Linked DNA regions of Homo sapiens: region 1 is linked to region 2. The links come from fine-mapping of genetic effects on gene expression. A gene starts in region 2. The other region holds a variant in brackets. All regions are shown on one strand. Distances are between the middles of the regions. Region 1 overlaps NLN (neurolysin). Region 2 holds the start of NLN (neurolysin).

The links. PIP is the estimated chance that this variant, and not a neighbour inherited with it, causes the effect.
Region 1: its variant is fine-mapped to the expression of NLN in whole blood (TOPMed, PIP above 0.99). The same link has a PIP of 0.9 or more in blood mononuclear cells.

Annotation. Positions count from the first base shown.
Region 1 is chr5:65,782,016-65,792,525 of GRCh38, forward strand. It overlaps NLN (neurolysin), which reads left to right. Exons shown (of 13, transcript NM_020726.5): 7 at 3,760-3,895; 8 at 6,103-6,469; 9 at 10,439-10,510. Among named protein-coding and RNA genes, the nearest start is that of NLN, 65 kb to the left of the region's middle. The variant A/G (reference allele first, on the strand shown) is at 6,259.
Region 2 is chr5:65,717,742-65,728,251 of GRCh38, forward strand. It overlaps NLN (neurolysin), which reads left to right and starts at 4,464. Exons shown (of 13, transcript NM_020726.5): 1 at 4,464-4,673. The coding sequence starts at 4,633. SGTB (small glutamine rich tetratricopeptide repeat co-chaperone beta) reads right to left here and starts at 4,368. Exons shown (of 11, transcript NM_019072.3): 1 at 4,176-4,368; 2 at 2,967-3,088. The coding sequence starts at 3,066. RefSeq lists silencers at 1,698-1,894, 3,939-3,988, 4,049-4,098, 4,169-4,778, 9,564-9,613 and enhancers at 5,055-5,876, 5,649-5,728.

The DNA of each region.
Region 1 (10,510 bases), 64 kb after region 2:
ACCGCACTGAAAAGTCCCATTTGGAAAAAGAAAGACTGGGAAACATAGCAAGCTCATAGCAATTTTCTAAAATTTTCAAATTCCTCAGGAACTGGGAAGATTCTGTACTATGGTGACGTTTCTTGGTTAGCTTGTTGGACTAAACTTGGGTCTGCTTTCTCATAAGAATTCCTTTATCAATTTTACTCCATGGCCCCCAGTTTTGCCCACAGGGAATTGTTTTTGTCCATTATCCTTGATGACCATATCTTGGGGGACTGCTGGTCCTGCTAATGTCAGGTAGAATCCCAAGGGTTGCTTTAGGGATCAAATAATCCAAACTTTTGTAGGCCAGACTTACGATATCTTTGGTAATACAGCCTCCTCAAAAATGTAGGTTTGTTGTCTGTTTGCTGCTAATCAGATGCATGTCAAAATAACTATACCCAAATATCACTTTTGGTCATAGTTCTTAAACTTGCCAAATCTTATATACTGTCTTCTGAATTTATCCATCTCACTCTTCCTCCATTTAATGAAGTCTGCTTTCAGGCCCTCTGAACATAGTGAGCTTGTGGAGGAAGGCAGCATTCTCAAATTCATGTCTGCAGTTCAGTAACTCGGAGTGACAGCCTTTTCTCTTAACACTAGGAACACAGAGCAATTGGCTTTTCCAACCATCTGAAGATTGTAGGCCATAGGCAGAACCTCCCTGAGCAGAATTCTTTTCCTTCCATCTTTAGAAACTGGCCAATTCTCACCCAAGCTTATCTCTCCCATGTAATCTTTCAAAAAGCAACAAATGCCAAAAAAACACCTCCCAACAGTATTAGCTTTCCCAAACAATTCCTCTAGGCTAAGACTCAGTAGGTACATGGCCTGCTGTCTGAGTTATGGCAAGCAACAGTTTTCACAAATGCCCATGGTATAATGAGAACCTGCTTCCCAGCCTGCAATGTCTGGGTCCTTACCTTCCATTCCTGTACATTTTTCATTTTTATTGTTAGTACCACCCAATTTCTGGTATTAATCTCTACATATGTTAGGGTCCAGGCTAAGGGACTTGACAGAAGTCAAAAGCACAGTTAACTCAAATAAGATAAAAGTTTTATCTTTCCAGAAAGTAGATTAGAGGTTACCAGGGAATGGGGAGAGGGAAGACTGAGGAGTTAATGGTTACAGAGTTTCTGTTTGGGGTAATGGATAAGTTTTAGAAACAGATGATGGTAGTGGTTGCACAATAGAATGAGTATTATTGCCGTTGAATTTTACATGGCTAAAATGGCAGATTTTACCACAATTTTTTTTTAAAAGATTTGTCTTATAACTGTAAGTCAAGAGGTGAGTGGTCCAGAGGTGGAAGACAGCTCTACCATCCTCAGGGTGTGGCTTTCAGGGTCATTGAGGTCATCTTCAGTTCACAGCCAGCAAGGCAAAGATCTATCAGACATGACCCAGAAATTTCACTCATCACTTCATTCACATCCCATTGTCCCATTGAGTATCACATGGCCACAGCTGGCTTTGAGGAAGGCTGGGAAACGTAATTAGGTAACCAAGTGTCCGGCAAAAATTCAGAGTTCAGCCAGGCACAGTGGCTCACACTTGTAATCCCAACGCTTTGGGAGGCCAAGGCAAGAGGATTGCTTGAGGCCAGGAGTTCAAGACCAGCCTCAGCAATATGGCAAGACCTCACCTCTATGAAAATTAAAAAAAAAAAAAAAATTCAGAGTTATATTACTAAAAGAAAAAATGAGAGAACAGATATTGGGAGAAAATTGGCAGTCTAGAGAGAAGATCTGGAGAAACTGCAAAAAATGAAAGAAAAATCTAATTAAACTATTTAATTTTAGAACTTGGAGAATTACATTATGTATGTTTCTCTTCTATGTTTTCCATTTTAGTTTTAAAATAATAATAATTATAACAGATAATTATATAGTGTTTGGTTATGTGCCAGGCATTTGTCTAAGCACTTTACATATATTTTCATTTGAATCTTCATGATTACTCTCCAGTGTATGTATTTTTATTTTCCACATCTTGCAAATGAGAAAACTGAGGGTCAGAAAGCTCCAGAATTTGCCCAAGATCAGGTAACTAGTAAATGGTGGAACCAAATTTTGAATGCAGGTAGTGTGACCTCAGTGTGTGATTTTCCTTAGAAACCAGTCTATAAATAATTTGCTGATTTGATTATTGGAATCAGTTTTTTCTTTTACTTTAACATTTACTTACTTCCTCTAGGAGAATTACTTTTATTTCATTGCTAAGAAAATAATAAAATAATATCAATTTTTGTATTTTTAATACAAATAAAATATAAAAGATATTTGTAATGTTAATTTGGGAAAAATCCCTGAAACATTTTTAAAAGCAGAATTTTATGGTGCCTTAGTTCATTTGTGCTGCTATAACAAAATACCACAGACGAAGTAATTTATGAACAATAGAAATTTTTCACAGTTCTGAAGGCTGAGAAATTCAAGATCAAGGGGCATCGGCATTCAGTGTCTAGAAAGGGCCTTTTTTCTATATCCTCACATGGCAGAAGGGGGAAGGGCAGAAAAGGCCCAAGTTCTTTAGCTGTAGCCCTTTTATAAGGCACTAATTCATTGGTCAATTCCCAAAAGGCCCTGCCATTTAACACTACCTCAAAAGGGATTATGTTTCAACACATGAATTTTGGGGAACATTCAGACCATAGCATGTGGCATTAAGTATATTCACATTGAGAATATGTTTATATTTTTCTGCAGCCATCACCTGTATCCACCTGCAGAGTTTTTTCATCTTCCTTAACTGAAACTCTACCCATTAAGCATTAACTCCCCATTATCCCCTATCCCCAGGCCCTGGCAATTACTATTCTATTCTGTGTCTCTGTGAATTTCACTACTCTAGGAACTTCATATAAGTGGAATAATAAAATATTTGTCTTTTTGTATCTGGCTTATTTCACTTAGCATACCTTAAAGGGTCATCCATGTTGTAGCATGTGTCAGAATTTCCTTCCTTGTAAAGGCAGAGTTATATTCCATTGTATATATATACCACATTTTGTTTACCTGTATATCTGTCCATGGACACTTGGGTTGCTTCCATCTTTTGGCTGTTATAAATAATGCTGCTGTGGACATGGGTGTATAGATCTCTCTTCGAGTCTCTGCTTTCAATTATCTTTGTTATTTACTGAGATGTAGAATTGCTGGATCATATGGTATAATTTTTTTAGGAATCACCATACCGTTTTCTACAGCAGCTAAACTACTTTACATTCTCATCAGCAATGTGCAAGGGTTCCAATTTCTCCATTTCCTCACCAGCACATTTTCTATGTTTTTAAAAATAGTAGCCATACAACTGGGTATGAAATTAAAAAGATAAATTTTACGTTATGTGTATTTTACCACAATAAAAATGTCCAAAGGAACTGAAAGTACCAATATTTGGTGCAGTTCTGTCAGTAGAAGTAAATATGGATTCGCTATATTCCTTAAAAATATATTTTCACTCTAAGTTTGTAGCACCTACAATTTTATTAAGACCTCATAGTTCTGAAGTTTAAAAAGTCATAAATTGTTTCAGAAATAAAACGAAATCATGAATCCAAAAAAAAAAAAAAAAGCCTATAACACCAAAATGGAACCAGAAATTTAAATGGTCTAAAAATATTTGATAATTTTACAAACCTAAAAATACATACAGTAATTCTTCCTTTTAGTGCTTTGGATCAAATTATTGATTAGCCTTTATTTTGTTGCTGTTGTTTATTACTAGGAAAACACCATAATTTTGCAGCAGCTACTCCCACTGCGAACCAAGGTGGCCAAACTACTCGGTTATAGCACACATGCTGACTTCGTCCTTGAAATGAACACTGCAAAGAGCACAAGCCGCGTAACAGCCTTTCTAGGTTAGTTCTTTTTTTTTTTTCTATGACTGTTTTGCTATACCATGTCAACCAGACAGAAGGCCTCAGAACATAATATGCCTTTGAGGACATCCTACTTTTCCTTCATTTGAGAGAAGTATATTGATCACCTATTAAGTGTTAGATAGTGTGCTTGGTTGTAGGGACTGCTTATTGTTTATATTGCTAGTATAGGCCTGGCTTCACTGTATCTTATATCTTCTTTAGGCTTTTTATACTAATTCCTAACATGACATGTAGGTTCTAACAGAGAGTTACTAAAGTTACTGGCTTTATTCTCTTCACTAGGGATTTAGTAGTCATAGCATGGCTGCTTATGAATTTGTATAAAATAAGCTGACAAATATGACGTACATAAAAATAAAACATACATAAACAAAAAACATTTAATATTCCAGAAACCACTTGTTAATATACAAAACTAATATAAAATAATATACATAAAACTAGTATCTAATAACTAATATAAAATAATATGTATAAAAACTGTTATCTAGTAACTATAATGTTAAACTCCATAAATGGTACATATTTGTTTTTGTATAATTCACTCATTCATTCATGAGACGTTTATGAAATAACTATTCAGCCTTAGGCAGTATGCTAAATAGTAGGATTACAGAAAGGAGTAAAACAAGGTCCTTTTGGCTGGGCATGGCAGTTCATGCCTGTAATCCCAGCACTTCGGGAGGCCGAGGTGAGAGGACTACTTGAGACCCAGAGTCCAAGACCAGCTTGGGAAACAAAGAGACCCCAACCCTGTCTCTACAGAAAAATTTAAAAATTAGCCAGGCATGGTAGCACATGCCTGTAATTCTAGCTACTTGGGAGGCTGAGGTGGGAGGATCCCTTGAGCCCAGGAGTTCAAGGCTGCAGTGAGCCATGATCATGCCACTGTGCTCCAGCCTGGGTGACAGAGCAAAATCCTGTCTCTAAAAATAAAAATAATTTTTTAAAAAGAGACAAGGTCTTTTTCTCAATGGATTTGTCACTTACTAGAAACAACAGAAGTGTGAACAGGTAATTACTCTACAGTCTGATGCATGGTATACAAGAGGATGGCTCAGAGAGTTAACAGGTTTGTAAAGAATGTTTCCTTCAGTGGTGATTGCATACACTAAAATTTTCCTTAGTAACCACCTGATTAACTTAATTCATTTAAAGGAGTTTTCCTTCTAATTTGAGATTGGCATATTCCTATGCAAAGTGTCCTCTTGAGAGGCTAAAGTGCGAGGATCCCTTGAATCTGAGAGTTGGAGTCCAGCCTGGGCAACATAGCAAAACTCACTCACTCTCTCTCTCTCTCTTTATATATATATATATGTATGTGTGTGTGTGTGTGTGTGTATACATACATGCGCACACACAGACACATGCACGCACACATGCACATGGATATATATATGGAAAACTATATCTTTGTATCCTCCATGAGTTTCCTCACTTCTCTTCACGGTATTCCTCGGGCTGCTCCTCCATCTCTCACATTGTGAGGTTGCCTTCTGAACTGCCATGTCCTTTGCAGAGCCAGGCATGTTTTTATCGTAACGTATGTAACAAAATGTAAAAAATAAATACATAAGACCATACTCATTTATCCAAATACAGTAAAGTGAAAAATTGACCACAGCAATATAATTTGTGGTTCTCAGAAGTTTCTCCAGCTAAAAACTGGAATTGCTGTGTCCAGATAAACCTTCACAGAAATGGGGTAATGAGAAACTAAACCCAGTGATAGGAATTTCTAGATAACATTGACCACAGGTCACATCTGATGTGTTTTCCCTAGCTTTCTTAGGAGTCTGACTGTCTTCATTGAAGAATAATCATGTACATGACTTTAGTTTCACTAGTGCTTTTTTCCCTGAATAACATTCTTCAGTCAGCGTTCTCTGAGATAAACTTGAGCTTTGGTGATGAATTGAGGAACTCATGGCCCAGTTCTGGGGGTGTTAAAAGAAAAAGGGGCTAGGACCATAAAATCAATAACCCCGAAGAGCAAAGTGTGCTTCCATAATACAGCCTGCTTTCCTCCCTCACGTTTTTCCTCCTCCTTTACCTCTTTCCGCCTTATTTATCTGTATTGAGTACTGCAAAGGAGGAAGCACCATGCTAAAACACAGGTGGTATTTATGAGTATGCTTGCTTCCAAAAGCAAGTAGATCACTAACTTTTCCTTTTCCTTACAGATGATTTAAGCCAGAAGTTAAAACCCTTGGGTGAAGCAGAACGAGAGTTTATTTTGAATTTGAAGAAAAAGGAATGCAAAGACAGGGGTTTTGAATATGATGGGAAAATCAATGCCTGGGATCTATATTACTACATGACTCAGACAGAGGAACTCA[A/G]GTATTCCATAGACCAAGAGTTCCTCAAGGAATACTTCCCAATTGAGGTGGTCACTGAAGGCTTGCTGAACACCTACCAGGAGTTGTTGGGACTTTCATTTGAACAAATGACAGATGCTCATGTTTGGAACAAGAGTGTTACACTTTATACTGTGAAGGATAAAGCTACAGGAGAAGTATTGGGACAGTTCTATTTGGACCTCTATCCAAGGTACTGAGGATCACGTTGTTGGAAGGGACCTTAGGGATTCAGCTATGCCTACTTTAAGACTCTACTCTTGGCCAGGCACAGTGGCTCATGCCTGTAATCCCAACACTTTGGGAGGCCAAGGTGGGAGGATTGCTTGAGGCTAGGAGTTCGAGACCAGCCTGGGCAACATAGTGAGGCCCTGTCTCTACAAAAAATTTAAAAATTAGGTCAAGTGTGGTGGCTCATGCCTGTAGTCCCAGCACTTTGGGAGGCCGAGGCAGGTGGATTGCTTGAGTCTAGGACTTCAAGACCAGACTGGGCAACATGGCAAAACTCTGTTGCTACAAAAAATACAAAAATTAGCCAGGTGTAGTGGTACATGCCTATAGTCCCAGGTACTTGAGAGGCTGAGGTGGGAGGATCACTTGAGCCTCAGAGGTGGAGGCTGCAGTGAGCCAAGATTGCAACACTGCACTCCAGCCTGGGTGACAGAGTGAGACCCTGTCTCAAAAAAAAAAAAATGAAAAATTAGCCAGGTGTGGTGTGCACACCTGTAGTCCTAGCTGTGCTGAAGCAGGAGGATCACTTGAGTCCAGGAGTTTAAGGTTACAGTGAGCTATTATCACACTGCTGCATTCTAGCCTAGGTGACAGAGCTAGACCCTATCTCTAAAAAAATTAATTTAAAAAAAGACTCTACTCTTCCATATTTCTCACATGGGCTTCTTAGTATACAGATTTAAAATGTGGGTCTGAAGCCAGAATGTCTGGCATCATCATTTACTAGGTAGGTTACTTAATTTTTCTGTGCCCCAGTTTTCTTACCTATATTATAGGTCCTATAAACTGGGAATATTAGTAGTACCTGCTTTGTATGGTCACTGTAAGGATTAAATTGGTTGAATACATGCAAAGCATTTAGAAGACTGCTCAGCACATAGCAAAGGCTTAATCAGAGTTAGCTGCTACCATTGTCATTATCATCATCATCTAGTTTGTGCACTACATTTACTTAATTGAATATTGACCACCACCCAGACATGGTGGCTCACACCTGTAATCCCAGCATTTTGGAAGGCTGAGGTGGGCAGATCACTTGAGGTCGGGAGTTCAAGATCAGCCTGGCCAATATGGTGAAACCCTGTCTCTACTAAAAATACAAAAATTTAACAGGCATCTGTAGTCTCAGCTACTTGGGAGGCCAAGGTATGAGAATAGCTTGAACCCTGGAACTGAGATCACGCCACTATACTCCAGCCAGGGCGACAGAGCAAGATTCTAACTCAAAAAACATAAATAAATAAAATTGAGCACCAAAATATTTATTAGATAATCTGTCTGCCAATAATCTATGGCCACTCCCTTCAGTCTGGCTGAGAGGCAGCACAGTTTAGTAGAAGTAGCAAAACCTTTGCAGTCAGTCAGATTTGAGTTTGAATGCTTGAGTGACATAACCTCTTTGAGATTCTGTTTCTTCCTCTGTAATATGGGACTGGAAATCCTTTTACAGGATTGTTTTATGCATTAAAGACTATATGTGCAAATCATCTTCCCCAGATATCAGTGGTAACAATTATAAAAATGTTATAATTGTGTCTATAGCATGTAATAACTATAGATTCCATAGTGTTTCATCAGATACAAAAGGATTTGGATCTCTTTCTCCCCAGGCTACTTTCTAAAGCAAAGTCAACCTCTTACAATTACTAATCATTTAAATAGATCAAAGGAGAGTATAGTATCCCCCTCATTCAGTAATACACACAAGTTTGTAATCCACTGACTTTGAGTGCTGAAAAGTAGGTTGAGTAACTGTGTCATCTAGTTGGTGGGCAGAAGTGTCTTTTAGCACCTAAGTGATTATCCTGGTGTATTAGTCCTTTCTCACAGTGCTGTAAAGAACTGACTGAGACTGGGTAATTTATAAAGGAAAGAAGTTTAATTGACTTACAGTTCTGCAGGGCTGGGGAGACCTCAGGAAACTTACAATCATGGCAGAAGGGGAAACAAACACATCCTTCTTCACGTGGCGGCAGGAAGGGGAAGTGCCAAGCCAACAGGGGAAAGCCCCTTATGAAACCATCAGCTCTTGTGAGAACTCACTCACTATCATGAGACTGGCTACCCCATGAATCAATTACTTCCCACTGGGTCCCTCCCACGACACGTGGGGATTATGAGAACTACAATTCAAGATAAGCTTTGGGTGGAGACACAGCCAAATCACATCACCTGCTGCTTTATGGACTTACTTTCACTAATATTATGACCTAAAAGTAAAACCCTGCCAAATATAGATGAGTCTTATTTTTAAATAAAAAGTATCAGGATATAGTTTTAACCGAAGAACTCTTTCAGGAGTAATCCTTTAATATTGGAGTCTCCTATAACTGTCCTCAGATTTTCTTTCCAGCGTCAAATAACAATTCTTGCTACCTCATTCTGCTGTCTCACTGCCAGGATATAATTAATTTCTTTTGTACTGAGAGATCTGGTCATTGCTACCAGCACCCTGGTGTGGGTAACAGAGAGTAATCTTTGTGAAAGTAGTGACCTAGTTAATACTTACTTCCTGTCATCTTAAGATGTTCTCTTCATAAAGGTAAAAGGGATTAACTTGTTTTATTTGTCTAACTGACTTTTAAAAAGGGTATTCAGAATAGGTTTTAAAAAGACCAGGTACTGTCTGGGTGCAGTGGCTGTAATCCCAGCACTTTGGGAGGCTGAGGCAGGTGGATCACTTGAGGCCAGGAGTTCAAGACCAGCTTGGTCAACATGGTGAAACCCCATCTCTAGTAAAAATACAAAAATTAGGCTGTGCACAGTGACTCACACCTATAGTCCCAGCACTTTGGGAGGCCAAGGAGGGCAGATCACCTGAGGTCAGGAGTTTGAGACCAGCTTGGCCAACGTGGGAAAACCCCATCTCTACTAAAAATACAAAAATTAGCTGGGTGTGGTGGCAGGCACTTGTAGTCCCAGCTACTCTAGAGGCTGAGGCAGGAGAATCATTTGAACCCAGGAGGTGGACATTATAGTTAGCCAGTATCTTGCCACCGCACCCCAGCCTGGGCAACAGAGCAAGACTCCGTCTCAAAACAAGAGAACAAAATTAACCAGCGTGGTGTTGTATATATGTAATACCAGCTACTCAGGAGGCAGAGGCAGGAGAATTGCTTGAACCTGGGAGGCAGAGGTTGCAGTGAGCTGAGATCATGCCACTGCACTCCAGCCTGGATGACAGAGCAAGACTCTGTCTCAAAAAAAAAAAAATAAAAAGACCAGGTACTATTAGTCTTCTGAGCAAAAGAAAAGGGGGAAAGGACACGTACTCCCAAAATGAAGTCTGATAGCTTTTGGAGAATGAAGTCTAATAGCTTTTGGAAAGACCACACAGATACGACACTGTACAAGAATAGTCTAATTGATAGTATAATTTATGCATTTTCCCAGGCTAACTAAAAGCATTCTGTTTCAAAAAGGCCTGTCTAGTTTATAAAAGAAGCTTATTTAATTGTGATTACTGATTCTTTCCTCCTCAAATAAAAGGAAAAACCTTATCGTCAGAAATTCAGTTTTTTATTCCGATTTTAATGAAAAGGCTGCCTAGTGAGTCAAACTGTATCTTTTATTTCAAATGTGGGTTTCAGCATTGTTTAGTGTTTAGTAATCCCATCTTTGAAAAAGAAAAGTAGAACCTCATTAAAATAAATTGGACATTCAGCTGTCGGTGTGACATGCATTCTTCATTCTTACCTCGAGATTTTTCAATAAAAGAAACTTCGGAGCTCACACAGAATGTTAGTGGGGTTATTGTTTGTTTAGCTTTAGTTTTTCCATTTTAGCAAAATAACCTACTTTCTAAAAGGTAAATTAATGTTTAAAGGCATCTCTGGTAACAGATATGGCTTAATGACTGGAAGAGGCCATGCCAGTGTAGTTGCTAGAGGAGAATTTTCCTATGTTGCCAACGCGTGTTTCTGGCTCCTAGGGAAGGAAAATACAATCATGCGGCCTGCTTCGGTCTCCAGCCTGGCTGCCTTCTGCCTGATGGAAGCCGGAT
Region 2 (10,510 bases):
TGTGATTGCCTGACAGCATTAAAGGTCTACTTGAAGTTCACAGTCATGAATTTAAAGTGGGACTAGTCAGCAAAGTTGTGTGTTTTGCTCCATTTATTTACGGCTACATGAGTGGGTGTGAGTAGTTGGGCACAAAGTAGGTGGAGAGTTGGATTTAAACAAAGTTGGGCTTTGCAAGAAAGGGAAGGAGATACAAGGGAATAATTATAATTATCAACCATGGAATTTAAGATGAGTAAGAAGAGGTGTGGGGAAAGGTGAGGCATGAACAGATTGGAGGTACTGGTTGGGTCAAAGAATAGCTGGAGTAGGGATTCTAGAGGGAGTAATCTTGGAAAGACAGGCAATAGTGGTCAGGAAGTGAAATGTTTGGGATAGAGATTAGGGAAGGAATGCAATTCTGGTAATGATTAAGTCTAGGGAAGGCTTTCTCAATCTCCGCATACTGACATTTTGGATCAGGTAATTTCTTCTTGTCAGGGGCTGTCCTGTGCATTAGCAGCATCCATGGCCTCTACCTACTCACTAGATGCCAATAATACCAGCCACCCGCCTCACCCAGTTGTGACAATCAGAATGTATCCAGATATTGCAAAATCACCCCCAAGTTGAGAACCACTGATCTAGAATATGATCAAGTGTTTGAGATCACTGGATGAGGTCAATAACTGAGAGCCAGGGAACTAAAATAATCATCAATCAGTATATTGCAATTGCCAAGAACTAAATAGGAGTAGTGCTAGAGAGAGTGACAGTGAGCAGGAACCACAATTAGTCAAGGAATGAAGCAAATGTCAGTAGATGACAATAATTAAGAGGAGTGGGTGACATAATCTGATGGCAAGACAAAGCTGATGATATACCAGCTTCACAGTAGTGGTAAAGCTGGTATTAGAACTGAGGCTTCTTTCCTAGGGCTTTTAAAAATGTCTAGAAGGTGGGCAGACACCTCCACATGATTTCATGTTCAATTAAATTAGACTCACAGAGTCAAAAATAGGGGTCAGTCAAAAACAATTGGCACCCTTTCTGACTGCCATATATAACAAACAGCTGAAGGCACATATTTTTGGCTGAATACCATCCTAAAAATAGGACATAACATCTTGGTTTGAAAAAAAAACCCTCAATTTTCTTTCTGGCCCTTAAAACTTTTATGCTGCTTTTGATTAGAAAAGAAACATCTTTTCTTAAATGACTGCATTTATCTGTTTGCTACAGAGCAATCATAACTAACATTCTCCTTAGATAACCAATCAACTTTATTTTCACATAGTCTAATCATCAAGGAGAACAAAAAGACCTTAATATTAAATGGACTGATTGCAATGTTCTCCAACTGTGCATCACCTGCTCCTCTCACTGCCACCTGGAAAGACATCAACTAACCAGACTGCAAGGAGGTTTAGAGCAAATGCCCAATTTTCATCTCCACCTCCTAAAAGCATATTCACAGGGAAATGCTTGTTGAAATTATAGAAGCAGTTTCAAGATGGGATTTATAACTATACTGTCATTTATTAAGTTCTTCCAAATGCACTCTCACTGCAATAATTAAGACTTTGGGGCTGGGAGGGGTGGCTCATGCCTGTAATCTCAGTACTTTGGGAGGCCAAGGCGAGTGGATCACTTGAGCCCAGGAGTTTGAGAACAGCCTGGGCAACATGGCGAAACTCTGTCTCTACAAAAAAAAATACAAAACTTAGCCGGGTGTGGTAGTGTACTCCTGTAGTCCCAGCTACTCAGGAGGCCGAGGTGGGAGGATCAATTGAGCCCAGGAGGTGGAGGTTGCAGTGAGCCGAGATTGTGCCACTACACTCCAGCCTGGGTGACAGAGCCAGACAGACCCTGTCTCAAAAAATAAATAAATAAATAAAAGACTTTAGGCCACAGGGACACCAGATTCACTGAACCTCCACAAGCCCATCTGCAGAATTCTACCTTGTTATGGTTGTACTGAATTTAAATTTTATAACACATAAACATGAAGAACAAAGACGGTGTCGAGGAAACACATGATGCTATCACCCACATCCTGTTCAACTTTACAGATTACCGAATCCAATATTAAAGTTAACGTAAAACACAGGTGAAATGCTCCCATTTCAAGTTCCAAATTAGGCACTGGTCAGATCTCACTAGTGGTATAATTATTAGACTTTTACATAGTGCTATTAAAATGACTCAGGTATTTTTATATATTATTTCTAAACTGGATGCTTTCCTATTAGGAAATGGAGACAACAAGATCTTCAGAGTATTAACCAGGATTTAAATCTCAGCTTTATCACATATCAGCTGTGTTATCTGCTTACGCTATTTGGTTTCATTTTCTTTTTCTTTTTTTTTTTTTTTTTTTGAGATAGGGTCTCGCTCATGGCCCAGGCTGGAGTGCAGTGGTGTGATCTCAGCTCACTGCAACCTCCACCTCCTGGGTTTAAGCCACCCTCCTATCTCAGCCTCCTGAGTAGCTGGGACTACAGGCAAGTGCCACCACACCTGGCTACTTTTTGTATTTTTAGTAGAGACAGGGTTTTGCCATGTTGCCCAGCCTGGTCTTGAACTCCTGACCTCAAATGACCTACCTGCCTCGGCCTCCCAAAGTGCTGGGATTACAGGCATGAGCCACCAAGCCTGGCCCTGGTTTTATTTTCTCACTTGTTAAATGGGGATAATACTAACATAACAGTTGCTGTGAAGAAAAAATTGCCTATAATATGAACAGCATACTTCTGACATATAGTATTTGTTCAATAAATGAACAATAGTCCTCTTAATTTGTTGTTAAAACAAACAAAACAAGCTTCAGAAAATGGAAATACGATAACCTTATAGTCAGGCCTCTCCTCTTGAAAGATCAAAAAAAATTCTGATTATGTTACAATAGATCATCAAGTTGGGCTTACAGCTATTTTAGTCTTCGTTTATAATTATAATATAAATGAACACAAAGAGCAGATGCATACCTTCCAAACTTTCTTGTTCATCCGAGGTGTAAGTGTCCATCTGACTTTGTTCCCGTAAGAAACGAATAACTGCATAAACCAGGTGCTTGATAGATGACATTTTAGAAGCTTAAACACTTTTCCTTGATAAGAAAAATGAAAACACTGAACTAAGTTATTTTAAAGAATCAGTCAGGAAAGTCATAAATTACAAAGATGATATGGGTTATAAAGTGTATTAAAGGTAAAAACAAAACACAAAACTGTATGACCTTTCATCTTTTCTCTTTGTAAAGAGTCAGGAGAGCACAAAGTATTGTGAAGGTAATTTATTACATATTTTCATTAATACCCAGTGGTATACGAGTATGTTAAATCTTGGAATAAGTAAAAATGTCTTCAAAACATGTACAGCATAAGCTTAGACTGTCACTGCATATCTCACCATACAGAAATCCCCTAAAGGCCTCAGTACTAAGTTAAGAGGCATTTCATACTGCTGACTAAAAGCTGATGTATACCAAGCATCTTCCTCTTTTTCATGGGATCTAAAAAAAGTATTAATAATGTACACTCTACCCACTTTTGTAGGTTGAGAGTTATTTGATGAGGAAACACATTCGCGAAAGGTTATTCAAGTGGTGAGTGTCGTTCTTAATAAAAATGGCATTTCTATTTAATCAGCAGACATGTCAGGAAATCGCTGCCCAAGTCGATGGATACTACAAGCCGACCGGCGCTCCCTGCAGAGGCTGTGCTCTCGTGGACAAGCTGGAAGCTCCCGGTCATGTTCATTCACATGGAATACTATCGCATCCAAACAGTGGCGCAGGGCCAGGCGGCATTCATGGCTGATTTCCACCAAATCGCATCATCCATCTGCTCCCCAGGTTCCCTAATTCAAAGCCAGGGTGTGGTACCCGCCGCTATAATGTTTATTATTTGTGTAGTTATTTTAAAGGCGATGTCAGCCTCTAGGCCACGGGGTCATAAGCACTAAATAAGGCCCCAGGGCAGAAGGTAAAAACAGAATGGGGGGAAAAGGGGTGAGAAGAGGGAAATAGGCTTCTCCCCCTTCCTCTCCCCAGAGCGCATCGAGCTCCCCCTCCCTTCCGTCCTCCCTCAGGTACCCGGCCTCGCCTCGGCCCTGCCCGGTGTGCAGCGGGTGCCGGTGCGGGCCCCGGTCCGGAGCGGCGGGAGGCGCACCCTTGCCAGACAGAAGCCCCTTACCAAGCAGGAGGACGCGAGACGACTGCTGCTGGCCCGCGGGGTTCCGTAGGCAGGCCCGCCCGACCCCTGGTCCTCGGGGCTGGAGCCCGGCTCGGGATCGCAGCACTGGTCGCGGCGGCGCAAACTTCCCCGGCCCCTAGGCCGTAGACCCCAGAACCCACCAGGCTGTGCTCTCTCTCAGGCGGCAGGGTCTGGCCAGCACCGCCCCTGGGGCGGGGCCGGACGCGAGGGCTGGGGCGGGGCCAGACACGCGAGCTGGGGCGGGGCACGGCGCGGGGCGGGGCTGGTAGGCGCCGGCGTGGAGCTGCCGCACGTGGGAGGGCGCTGGCCAGGCAGCCACTGTGGCCTCTGCGGCTAGGCCGGCTCGAGACTCCCGGGCGCCCAGGCGCTGCCGCCCGCCTCGCCGCCCCACGCCGAAGGACCACGCGCCCGCCGCCGCCAGCCTCTCAGCGCTCCCATGATCGCCCGGTGCCTTTTGGCTGTGCGAAGCCTCCGCAGGTACCTCCAGCGCGCGGGTTAACCTTGGCCGTGGGCAGGGCGGGGTCTTTCGCCGTGTGGTGCCTGGAGCCCGGACCCACCCCTTCCCGACCGCGCCTCTCCGACGCTCCCGGGACGCACCCTCCCCGCGGCTTGCAAGGTGGACCCCTGGGGGACACCTGGCGCGGCCACCTGGGGCCACCTTTCCCGCCTCCGCTCCCTCGGGAGGACGTCCATTCCTCTTTGTTTGGGACTGCCTCAGCCGCAGTCAGCGAGGCTGGTCACAGACGCGGCCCAAAATGAATGCAAATAGTTTGGATAAGAAAATCATTTCACGTTCAATCCCAATGCAGAACTACAGACCTGTCATTAAAAGTGCCGCAGCTGTGGACTCAGAACAATTGTGTTTGCTCCTCGCGCCCATTATTAGCATTCCAATCGTTTAACATCCACCCGAGATGAAACCTCTTTGGTGGTGTTGCTTGTTTCCGTCCATGCTCTCTGACTTCCTTTTTTATTTTCCTCCTCCCCATAAAACAAACATTCTGCCTCTTGCCGGTGCAAATTGACTTGGCCCAAAATGGAGAAAATGATCGCTTGGACACGGCTTTGGGCAGCCTGAGCTGCTGTTTTGGATTGCTTCCTAGCCCTCTAACCACACCCCACTGCAACAGACCAGTAGCAAGATGGTGAGGGAATTAAATTCTTTGCACGGATGCGCTGGTTTTCGGAAACAATGCCGCCACCATCCCCGTTTCCAAATCTGCCCAGAACTGTAAATCCAAATGAAGATTCAACAGAATAAAGAAAATGTGTGCTTCTTGCTAGCTATCAACAAAACTACTTTGTAACATGTCAGCATTTAAGCTTTCTACAGTTCCCTTTTGCACATTGCCACTCGTCTGTGTGGATGGAGCTTTGTGTTGCTCAGTCCGTAGAGTTAGGGAGCAGGCAGGCGACAGTGGTTAATTACAAAGAGTTAATGTGGTGATTGGTGACCATATTTCAGCCTGTCGTTTTTTGCTAGTCTCCAGGCTGCAATCGATATAGCTGTCAAATGAAGTTATACCAAGAAATGAAGACTTCACATAATGCAGGGGTGAGAGGAGGGAATAAATCTTCATATAAGAGCAATTCTCGGCCGGGCGCTGTGGCTCATGCCTGTAATCCCAGCACTTTGGGAGGCCGAGGCGGGTGGATCACGAGGTCAGGAGATCGAGACCATCCTGGCTAACACGGTGAAACCCCGTCTCTACTAAAAAATACAAAAAATTAGCCGGGCGTGGTGGCGGGCGCCTGTAGTCCCAGCTACTCGGGAGGCTGAGGCAGGAGAATGGCATGAACCCGGGAGGCGAAGCTTGCAGTGAGCCGAGATCGCACCACTGTACTCTAGCCTGGGCGACAGAGCAAGACTCCGTCTCAAAAAAAAAAAAAAAAAAAAAAGAACAATTCTCAAACTTTTTATTCTCAGGACCCCTTTACCTTTCAAAAATTACCGTGGACCTAAGAGCTTCTGTTTGTGTGGTATATCTGTCTATATTTACCATATTAGACATTAAAGCTGGAAAAAAATTAAAGTAGTTGTTAATTTACAAAACTAATAAATAGGCTAGGTGCATAAATAGTGATTTTAATGAAAAATAACTATTTTCCAAACCAACCCCCCCGCCCCCCAATCAGTGAGAAGATTAACATTGTGGGGTTTTTTCCCTTTTTTTTAAAATTGTGGTAAGATATAACAAAATTTACCATTTTGATAATTTTTAAGTGTACAATTGAGAGGTACAGCCAACACCACTGTCCATCTCCAGAACTTGTCATCATCCCAAACTGAAACCCTGTACCTATTACACAATAACTGCCCATTACTTCCTCCCCCAATCCCTGGTTAACCATTATTTTTTCTCTATGAATTTGAGTATTTCAGGTCCCTTATATAAGTGGAATTAGACAATATTTGTCCTTTTGCGTCTGGTTTATTTAGTATAGCGTTTTTAAGGTTTATTCGTTTTGAAGCATGTGTCGGGATTTCCTTTTTAAAACTGAATAATATTTCATTGTATGTATATACCACATTTTGTTTATCCATTTGTCAGTGGACATTTGGGTTGCTTCCACCTTTTGGCTATTGTGAATACTACTACTATGATCATTAATGTGCACATGTCTGTTTGAATCCCTGCTTTTAATTCTTTGGGATACTGTATGTACCTAGAAGTGAAAATTGCTGAGTCATAGGATAGTACTATGTTTAGTTTTTGAAACCATACTGTTTTCTTCAGTGGCTGTACCATTTTTACATTCCCATTGGCAGTACCTAAGGATTCCAATTTCTCCACATCATCATCAGCACTTATTTCCTGGTTTTGATAACAGTTATCCTAGGAGTGGCATTGTTTCTTTTTTTTTTCTTTTTTTTTTTTTTTGAGACAGAGTCTCTCTCTGTCGCCCAGGCTGGAATGCAGTGGCGCTATCTCGGCTCACTGCAAGCGCCGCCTCCCGGGTTCACGCCATTCCCCTGCCTCAGCCTCCCAAGTAGCTGGGACTACAGGCGCCCGCAACCACGCCCGGCTAATTTTTTTTTTTTATTTTTAGTAGAGACGGGGTTTCATCCTGTTAGCCAGGATGGTCTCGATCTCCTGACCTCGTGATCCGCCTGTCTCGGCCTCCCAAAGTGCTGGGATTACAGGCGTGAGCCACTGCGCCCGGCAGAAGTGGCACTGTTTCGCATTTTTGCAAAACTAATGTGTGACATAATAGAAGGTAACTGGATTCTTATGTCTGCCTCTGCATTTAAGCTGCTGCACTGTTTCATTTTGGTTTAAGATGAAGAAAATCCCACCTCACAGTCATATGAAGTTGGAAAGAAGAATATTTTAATAGCTTTTTAAAGATAATCATGGATGTTCTTTGATATCACATCAAAGTTTGACAAATCGTAGCTTTTTAAAGGTTAGTTACAAAGTGGAATTTGAAACTATATCAATGTACTTGTTTTACACTGTTACATTAATATCCAATGGTGTACCTTACACTTTGAATGGATGTTGAATCCATGCCTGTTTTTTAAAACATTAAGCATAAGTCCTTCGGAAATTTTAGTGGTTCACTGTGTTATACAGTTCTTCCTAATGTTGACATATTTCATTATACAGTATCAAACAATCACTTTCCTTAATGTCTTCCTATTTAGTCGGAAAAGTCTTCAAGTATTGGGAAGCTGTCAAGCTCACAGTGGCAGATAGGATTTTCCAAAATTCTAGTTTTCACTTGAAAGCTAGAATTTTATCATTGGTAACACAAACTGTCAGTTGTTTTACTTGAAGTGACAATCTCACTTTGTTACATTTTTGACAGAATTTCTGCCACATACTTAAGTCTGAATAACCCTGGTTTGTCTGTCAGTAGTTTTTTTCTGGTAAAAATGGTGTTCCATGGGCTGGGCACGGTGGCTCACGCCTGTAATCCCAGCACTTTGGGAGGCCATGGCAGGTGGATCACGAAGTCAGGAGATCGAGACCATCCTGGCTAACACGGTGAAACCCTGTCTCTACTGAAAATACAAAAAATTAGCCGGGCGTGGTGGCGGGCGCCTGTAGTCCCAACTACTCGGGAGGCTGAGGCAGGAGAATGGCGTGAACCCGGAAGGTGGAGTTTGCAGTGCGCCGAGATTGTGCCACTGCACTCCAGCCTGGGCGACAGAGCGAGACTCCGTCTCAAAAAAAAAAAAAAAAAAATGGTTTTCCATGAAAAAAATCTATTTCAGCTCACAGTTCAACCAATTGCAAAAGTGCTTTTGATTTGGGCAACCAAATCCTCAGGACAACCCTTATACTCAGGTACACAGCAGAAATGCTTTGTGTGTACTTGGTCACATATAACTCAAAGGTAGAGATTTAATAAAAATTCATACTTTTTACCATTTCATTAAGGATATTCTAAAATGAAATTGACATTATTTTTAGCCTGAGTGCATGGCAATGAAAAATATAGCTACTAGTATAGTTTGGTGTCATTGCCTCAATTTGTGCTGAAGTACCAACAGTATTATCCACCATTCCTTTTCGCCATCAGTGCAAATGTTCATAAAGTAAAAAGGATAAATAATGTCTTAGTATTGTTATGAAAGATTTTTAACCTCACAGATTCCTTGAAAGTGTCTCAGGAACCCCTCCCCATACCTCTACCTTTAAGGTTTGTGGACTACATTTTGAGAGCTGCCGATATGTGGTATTAGATTCTTTGTTTATGCATGGAAGAAAATAAATATACTAATAGCCAAAAAATTATTACCTTGTTAGAAGCTACCATAAATATATTAACTAATTTGTTACATAAGGGCATATCTTACAGTTAATCATCATATATGGTAGTCCTTAACCCAGGGCTTCCTTGACTTAATCACAGAATCTGCTCTGTTTCAAAATCAGTATCTTCCAAAAGAGTTCATATTAGACAACATGGAGGACCCCCTGTGTTCTCCTGTTTTTCCTGTTTCCTCTGACACTTGGGAGTTCATTTTAGTGTTATGGAGTAACTAGGCTTTTGCCTAACTGACTTACAGTTTCCATTGGGTTTTCTTGTTGGCAGAGCTGCTATATCCCCTTCCCAAGGCCAGCTTCCAGCTAGGATCATTGATTGGGGTGTTCAGCCAACTTCTTGGGAATAAGTGGACTGAGAATCTGGAGTTTGGATTATAGTTGCTGTTCAATTCACTTTGTGACCTTAAAAAAATCACTCACTCCCTTGGACCTCTTTCAAGTTATGTACCTATGTATGTATGTATTTTAGAGACAAGGTCTCACTCTGTCATCCAGGCTGAAGTGCAGTGGGGCATGATCATGGCTCACTGCGGTCTCAAACTCTGGTTTCAAACAATCCTCCCTGCCTCAGCCTTCTGAGTAGCTGGGACTACAGGCGCTCACCACCATGCCCAGCTAATTTGAAAAAATTGTTTGTAGAGATAGGATCTTGCTATGTTGCCGAGGCTAGTCTAGAATTCCTGGCCACAAATGATCCTCCCATCTCAACCTCTGAAAGTGCTGGGATTACAGGAGTGTACTATCATGCCTGGCCCAGGTTCCTTATATTGTAAAATGAAAAGGACTAGACTAAATAATAGCTAAGGCCTTAAAAAAAAAACAAAAAGCAAAAAACCTCTATATTGCCATAGCAAACCAGGAGAATTCCTCCTCCTACCTCAGATTGTACAGCATGTGACCCAAGCAAAGCCTAATGTATATTATAGAATAAGAGGGATGAGTGACATGGTCAAAGAAACAAACGAGAAGGTTGACTCAACAATATTTAGCCGAAACAATAGCTGTAATAGCCTAGCTTCCTCTTGCAATTAGAAAAGACAGCTTGGTTTGTTTTTTGGTTTTTGTTTTTTTGAGACAGTCTCGCTCTGTTGCCCAGGCTGGAATACAGTGGCATGATCTCGGCTCACTGCAACCTCTGCCTTCTGGGTTCAAGCAATTATCCTGCCTCAGGCTCCTGAGTGGCTGGGATTACAGGTCCCCACAACCACGCCTGGCTGATTTTTTGTATTTTTAGTAGAGCTGGGGTTTCACTATGTGGGCCTGGCTGGTCTTGAACTCCTGACCTCAAGTGATCTGCCCACCTCAGCTTCCTAAAGTGCTGGGATTATAGGCGTGAGCCACTGCACCTGGCCTAAAAAACACAGCTTGGTTTTTTAAAATGATGACAGCAATGCGTGTTCATTATTGAAAACTTAGCAAGTAATGACAAGCAAAAGAAAATATTAAATATATATATAATCCAGCCACCTGGAACAGCCAATTCTTAACAGCTTTCAAAATTTCCTCTATGAACAGACTTTCTTTTTATAAATATGA